Linked DNA regions of Homo sapiens. The protein of the gene in region 1 purifies or fractionates together with the protein of each later gene. This does not show direct contact. Each region holds a gene or a part of one and is shown on either strand. Other genes may lie near its edges.

What was found. The genes of interacting proteins can lie anywhere in the genome.
Region 2: the proteins of CORO6 (region 1) and TRIOBP purify together in Homo sapiens (affinity purification with mass spectrometry; 2 studies listed by BioGRID and IntAct, with this or other methods). This does not show direct contact.

The regions. Positions count from the first base shown.
Region 1 is NC_000017.11:29,616,280-29,620,028, reverse strand, and holds part of CORO6 (coronin-6), read left to right. Parts: intron 1-255; coding exon 256-378; intron 379-839; coding exon 840-969; intron 970-1,057; coding exon 1,058-1,239; intron 1,240-1,396; coding exon of another isoform or gene 1,397-1,552; exon of another isoform or gene 1,553-2,409; coding exon 2,410-2,529; coding exon of another isoform or gene 2,530-2,551; exon of another isoform or gene 2,552-2,688; coding exon of another isoform or gene 2,689-2,787; intron 2,788-2,986; coding exon 2,987-3,091; intron 3,092-3,181; coding exon 3,182-3,327; exon of another isoform or gene 3,328-3,328; intron 3,329-3,692; coding exon 3,693-3,749.
Region 2 is NC_000022.11:37,720,915-37,724,663, reverse strand, and holds part of TRIOBP (TRIO and F-actin-binding protein), read right to left. Parts: intron 1,480-3,749; coding exon 1-1,479.

The DNA.
Region 1 (3,749 bases):
CAGCTCTACAAGTATCTTGTTGTGTGTCCTTGATGAGGCCATCTTACCTCTCTGTGTCACAGTCCCTAATATTAAATTATTTCAACTCTGCCTTCAGTAAAGTGCAGGAAGTGGACTGGATGGGGTTAGAAGTGCAGAGAGGGATCTGCAAAGAGAAAATAGGTAATAAGGAATCGAGATGTAAGCAGATCTGCTACCCACTCCCCAAAAAACACACAGGAGAGTAGCCCCACATCTTCTTCTCCAACCCCTCAGACAGGGCGAGTGGATAAGAACTACCCACTGGTCACTGGGCACACTGCCCCTGTGCTGGATATTGACTGGTGTCCACACAATGACAACGTTATCGCCAGTGCCTCAGACGACACCACCATCATGGTAGGAGCCAGGTGGCTACTGCTGGGCAGTTGAGCAGGGGAGCAGGGAAGGCTGCCTCACCTGTGCTGGGGAAGGTGCTAAGGGTGGTAATAAGGGAGGTGCTGGGTCCCAGGGCCCTGCCCTGCCCAGCTCCTGGACTATTTTTAGCTACATGCCCACCCCCTCCCAGGATGCACTGCTTAGGACTAATTATAGCCATGGCCAACTTGGTGCCTGGAGAGCAGCAGGGCAGTGCTCTGAAGTCTCCCTGCTGGAGTGAATGGGAGGTCTCTGGAGAGCTGGCAGTGCCCCCTCCTGGCTCCCAGCTGCTTCTGTTCTAGGCATGCACCACCACATCTTGCCCTGTATTTGACCCTTACCACTCAAGAGAGCCAGTAGGGTTAAAAAAAAAGGTAGGGAAGGAGTGGAGGGACAGGGTGGCTCCTCATTCCACCCACCATATACCTTTTCTTCCTACCCAGGTGTGGCAGATTCCAGACTATACCCCCATGCGCAACATTACGGAACCTATCATCACACTTGAGGGCCACTCCAAGCGTGTGGGCATCCTCTCCTGGCACCCTACTGCCAGGAATGTCCTGCTCAGTGCAGGTCTGGGGGCTAAGGAGGGGTCCCCCATAGATGGGTGGGTGGTGGCAAAGGTGGGACCCAGGTGACCATGCCTGGCCACTCTGGGCAGGTGGTGACAATGTGATCATCATCTGGAATGTGGGCACCGGGGAGGTGCTGCTGAGCCTGGATGATATGCACCCAGACGTCATCCACAGTGTGTGCTGGAACAGCAACGGTAGCCTGCTAGCCACCACCTGCAAGGACAAGACCTTGCGCATCATTGACCCCAGAAAAGGCCAAGTGGTGGCGGTGAGTGCCTGGCCTGGCCACTCCCCAGAACCCCTTGACCAGTGGCCAGCTGTCAGCACCCTTGTACCCACCATTATCAGAGCCCCTGGTCCCGGCTTTCACCTGTCGCATCCCTGCTCCAGAGACTAGCCCCCTTCCCCCGTCTCTGCAACCACAGGTCTCTGCCCTAAGTAAGCCCCCAGCCTGCAATTCTCTGCCCGGCTCCTGTTCCCTCCCCTCCCTTGCATCTCAGAAGCTCAGAGAAGGGCTCCTCGCTTTGGGATTGAGGAGGGGAGAAGCTGGAAACTCCATCCTCCCACCAGAACCTGCATGAAACCTGAGCTCCTGGACCCCTCTCCTCTCAGCCGGCACCCAGACGCATCTTCCAGGGTCTGGGGCCTGACACTGGCTCGAGGGCTGGCCCTTTCTCCTTGTGGACCCGCTGGGCGGGGGATGGGGCAACCCTCGCGCGTTGCTTATCCCAGCCGGATGCCCTGGGAGGGCGGCGGCCCTGGCCTCGCCAGCCTCAAGTCTAACCTGGGGTGCGGGTGCGTGGGCCGCGTGCATGTCTGCGTGGAGCAAGCGCGCCGAGAGCGGTCGGGGCTGGCGCCGGGGCGCTCTAACCCACTAACCCGGCGAGCAGGAGCAAGCCCGGCCTCACGAGGGCGCCCGCCCGCTGCGGGCTGTCTTCACCGCAGACGGGAAGCTGCTCAGCACCGGCTTCAGCAGGATGAGTGAGCGGCAACTCGCGCTCTGGGACCCGGTAGGCCAGGCCGCGCCGGGCGCGCTAGCTCGCTCCTTCTCTGGGTCTGCCGGGAGCGCCTTCCCGGGCTGTGGCTGGCGCCCAAGAGGCCAGAGCGGAGCGGGGAGCTCCCATTCGGGAAAAGCCTCGCTGCGACTCCGGGGAGCCAGCAGACACCCCTGCTCTAGGGATCGGCCTTTGAGCGCGCTTAAGGGTTCGGGATCGGCTGAGAGCCGCGTGCCTCCTGCTCTCTCCAGGCCCGGATGCTCTCCAGGTCAGGGGCCAGACGTGGCCCCGCAGGAAGCTGAGTGCTTAGGCCCCATTTGTCTCTTCCCCGCATCCGCTCCTCCACCCCGGACACCCAAGTCAGCAAGCTGGTTGCTCATCCCTCCATGCTCCTCAGGGCAGGCAGCTGGGTGATGTCCCTCCCTGTCTCCCCCTCCCCCCAGGAGAGGTTTGCGGCCCACGAGGGGATGAGGCCCATGCGGGCCGTCTTCACGCGCCAGGGCCATATCTTCACCACGGGCTTCACCCGCATGAGCCAGCGAGAGCTGGGCCTGTGGGACCCGGTAACGCAGCTGGAGGCTTGGGGTGTGTGCCTCGGGGACTGGCATCACGGGAGAGTGGCCAGGCGCCCCCCACCCGCAGGGCATGCCCACCTGGACAGGACTGAAGGCTGCTGCCACCTCTGCAGCGCCTGCCATTCTCACACCCACCCCTCTGCCCAGTTTTGCTGCGTCGCGTGAAGGATCCTGCGCTGGCGCCCCCACCTGGTGATGCCGAGTCCCTGGGGGTGGTTTGCTGTGACTGCATGCGGCGCGCAGCGGGTATATGTGCAGGGGAGGAGGAGCTATGTGCGCAGGGGAGGAGGAGAGATGTGCCCAGGGGAGGGGCCTGCAACTCTGGTCACTAGAGGTTTGGGGCATAGGGTTTGGGAAGGCCAGGAAGCGTAAAGGGGCTTCTGGGGGTCCCGAAGTAGCACGGGAGGGTGGGGCAGGGCTGGTCACGCCTCCTGTGCTCGGGCAGAACAACTTCGAGGAGCCAGTGGCACTGCAGGAGATGGACACAAGCAACGGGGTCCTATTGCCCTTTTACGATCCCGACTCCAGCATCGTCTACCTGTGTGGCAAGGTGCTCACGGCCGGGCAGGGAGAACAGGGCACTGGATGGAGATGTGGAGGGCCTTGTCCGGGCGCGCCCCTGAACCGACTGATTTTGCAGGGCGACAGCAGCATTCGGTACTTTGAGATTACCGACGAGCCGCCTTTCGTGCACTACCTGAACACGTTCAGCAGCAAAGAGCCGCAGCGGGGCATGGGTTTCATGCCCAAAAGGGGACTGGATGTCAGCAAGTGTGAGATCGCCCGGTCAGCAGCCTTGGCCCCTCCTGAACACCTACCCGCCTCTGTCCCCCACTCATGTCGGGTCCTAGCCACGGGGCTTCCCCAGTAATGCAGTGCTTTGGAAAAGCGGGGCGGGGGGATAAGACAGCTCTGTTTCAGTGCCAGACCCACCGCTCACTAGCCTTACATTCTCAACTTCAGTTTCCTCATCTATAAGATGATGGTGAACACACCATCAGGGTGTTTTATTGCAGAACCAATAATGTGTGTAATGTGCAATATGCATGGTAGGCGCTGAGCAAGTGTTGGCCTCCAACCCCCTTGGTCTTAGACAGGAGAAGTTAAGGACGTGGAAGTCTGCGAGGGTGCTGAACCCTGCTCCCTTATAGGTTCTACAAGCTACACGAAAGAAAGTGTGAACCTATCATCATGACTGTGCCCCGCAA
Region 2 (3,749 bases), on another chromosome or scaffold:
GTTGGGCACAGGATGTTCTGGGGTTCTCTTGTTGGATGGTTCTGCTGGGAGAGGAGGCTCTGGGATTGTCCCGTAGGGCACAGGATGTTCTGGGGTTCTCTTGTTGGATGGTTCTGTTAGGAGAGGAGGCTCTGGGATCGTCCCGTCGGGCACAGGATGTTCTGGGGCTGTCTTGTTGGGTGGTTCTGTTGGGAGAGGAGGCTCTGGGATTGTCCCGCTGGGCACAGGATGTTCTGGGGTTATCTCGTGTGGCTCTATTGGGAGAGGAGGTTCTGGAGGCTCTGGGATTGTCCCGCTGGGCACAGGATGTTGTGGGGTTGTCTCGTGTAGCTCTATTGGGAGAGGAGGCTCTGGGATTGTCCCGCTGGGCACAGGATGTTCTGGGGTTGTCTCGTGTGGCTCTATTGGGAGAGGAGGTTCTGGAGGCTCTGGGATTGTCCCGCTGGGCACAGGATGTTGTGGGGTTGTCTCGTGCAGCTCTATTGGGAGAGGAGGCTCTGGGATTGTCCCGCTGGGCGCAGGATGTTCTGGGGTTGTCTCGTGTGGCTCTATTGGGAGAGGAGGTTCTGGAGGCTCTGGGATTGTCCCGCTGGGCACAGGATGTTGTGGGGTTGTCTCGTGTAGCTCTACTGGGAGAGGAGGCTCTGGGATTGTCCCGCTGGGCACAGGATGTTCTGGGGTTGTCTCGTGTGGCTCTATTGGGAGAGGAGGTTCTGGAGGCTCTGGGATTGTCCCGCTGGGCACAGGATGTTGTGGGGTTGTCTCGTGTAGCTCTACTGGGAGAGGAGGCTCTGGGATTGTCCCGCTGGGCGCAGGATGTTCTGGGGTTGTCTCGTGTGGCTCTATTGGGAGAGGAGGTTCTGGAGGCTTTGGGATTGTCCCGCTGGGCACAGGATGTTCTGGAATTCTCTCGTTGAGTGGTTCTGTTGGGAGAGGAGGCTCTGGGATCGTCCTGCTGGACACAGGGTGTCCTGGGGTTTTCCCGCTGGGGAGTACAAGTAGGAAAAGAAGTTTGGGGGTTGTCCTGCTGGGTAGAAGAGGTTCTGGGGTTATCCAGTTGGGTGCTTCGTGAGGGAGAGGAAGCTCTGGGGGTGTTCCACTGTGTAGATGAGGCCCTGGGGGTGTCCTCTTGGGTGGATGAGGCCCTAGGGGTGTCCTCTTGGGTGGATGAGGCCCTGGAGGTTTCCTGTTGGGTGGATGAGGCCCTGGAGATTTCCTGTTGGGTGGATGAGGCCCTGGAGGTGTCCCTTTGGGTGATTCGATGGGGAGAGGAGGCTCTGGGGATTTCACGTGTAGAGGCAGCCTGAGCAGTGTCCCTTTGGGCAGGAGAAGCCTGAGACGTGGTGCTTCGAGGTCCACTGTGTGGTGTCATGGAGGAAGCCTGGGTCAGTGTTGACCGGTGCCGCTCCAGGGACAACCCGCTTTCTCCCCGGAGCCTTGCCCAGTGCTGTCCTGCGCTCCGGCCCCCACCGCCGGTGTCTGGAGAGAGAAGAGAGGGGCTCAAGGTAAGGGGAGAGGTCCAGGCAGCTCTCATATTCTACCTTTCTTTGTCCCTTAGGACCAGTGATTAGGGCAAACCCCACACCCTCCTCCTACAGGTCTCACTGTCTGTACCAAGTGACTCCACCTCTCTGACCAAGGCTGATTAGACAAGGGCTTGGATGCCTCTCTCAAGCTGAGGTCAAGAATTTGAAATTGAGACCCTGACTCACTCAAGAGATGGGTTCAAGAACTGGAAGGCCACAGGGTCTGGGGATCCACGGACAAGACAGAGAAGAAGCAAATTTGTGGAGAGAAGTGTTGACAATGGCCTGTGTGACCCCAGGGAGGGAGAGGTGGGCCCAACAGCAGCCACCTGACAGTCTTCCCTTCCCAGTTCTATTTCCTTCAATCAGAATCCAAGGAATTCCCCCCATTTCTTGTTTTGTTTTGTTTTTGAGTCAGAGTCTCGCTCTGTCGCCCAGGCTGGAGTGCAGTGGCGTGATCTCGGCTCATGGCAACCTCCGCCTCCCAGGTTCAAGCCATTCTCCTGCCTCAGCCTCCCGAGTAGCTGGGATTACAGGCATGCGCCACCATGCCCAGCTAATTTTTGTATTTTTAGTAGAGACGGGGTTTCACCATGTTGGCCAGGCTGGTCTCGAACTCCTGACCTCAGGTGATCCGCTCACCTCGGCCTCCCAAAGTGCTGGGATTACAGGCGTGAGCCACCATGCCCGACCTTTTTTTTTTTTTTTTTGAGACAGAGTCTCGTTCTGTCACCCAGGCTAGAGTGCAATGACGCGATCTCGGCTCACCGCAACCTAAGCCTCCTGGGTTCAAATGATTCTCCTGCCTCAGCCTCCCAAGTAGTTGGGATTACAGGCATGCACCACTATGCCCAGCTCATTTTTGTGTTTTTAGTAGAGACAGGTTCTAATGAGCCTGTTTCCTGTGCGACAGCTCTAGAAAGCCCCTGTTTTTTTGTATCCAAATGTTCCTACCCTGAGGCTTCTCCTAGGGCTGCCATGAGGATAGGAAAGGTGCAGGGATGGACAACCTTTTATAAACTGGTAGCTGGGAGTTTGCCAGAAATGCAGAATCTCAGGTCCCAGCCCAGATGCACTGCTTCTGGATCTGCATTTAACAAAACTGTCTGGTGATTTGTACACCTTATAGTTTCAGAAGCACTGGCCTAAAGGATTAATGTAACTGTCCTCAGTAGTGACCCTCTTTGCAACTCCTAGCCTCATGACAGAGTTGCCATGACCTTGGTGTGTCACCCTCCACCCCGCTCAATCCCTCGGTCACCAAGCAGGTGTTGAGCACCCCTATGTACATGTCCCTTGGCTACTGCTTTAGGTGAAGAGTAAAGGGTATCATGGCCTCATCTTAAAGGAGCCACAACTATGGGTGTGGTGGCTTACACCTGTAATCCCAGCACTTTGAGAGGCCAAGGTGGGAGGATCACTCGAGCTCAGGAGTTCCAGACCAGCCTAGGCAACATGGCGAGACCCTGTCTCTACTACAAGTTTTTTAAAACTTAGCAGGGCCTGGTGGTACGTGCCTGTAGTCCCAGCTACCTAGGAGGCTGAGGCCGGAGGAGTGCCTGAGCCCAGGAGGTGGAGGTTGCAGTGAGCCAAGAATGTGCCATTGCCCTCCAGCATGGGCAACAGAGCAAGACATTGTCTTAAAACAAAAAACGAAACAAAAAAGTAGCCACAGTTGCCTTCATGCAGATCCCCTCCCTTCACGCCTTCTTAAGATCCCCTGTCCTCTCCCTTTGCAGCCACTGCCTCGTCCAGCCTCTCTGGGCTGGTGTTGGTGAAAGTCTGAGTTCCCAGCACCTAGCAGGGAATTCAAAATTTGCAAGGTTGCCAGGCACGGTGGCTCACGCCTGTAATGCTAACACTTTGGGAGGCCAAGGCGGGTGGATCATCTGAGGTCAGGAGTTCGAGACCAGCCTGGCCAACATGGTGAAACCAGTCTCTACTAAAAATACAAAAATTAGCTGGATGCAGCCGGGAGCAGTGGCTGATGCCTGTAATCCCAGCACTTTGGGAGGCCGAGGCGGGCGGATCACAAGGTCAGGAGATCGATACCAGCCCTGCTAACACGGTGAAACCCCATCTCTACTAAAAATACAAAAAAAAAAAAAAAAAATTAGCCGGATGCAGTAGTGCATGCCTGTAATCCCAGCTACTCGGGAGGCAGAGGCTGGAGAATTGCTTGAACCCGGGAGGTGGAGGTTGCAGTGAGCTGAGATCTGGCCA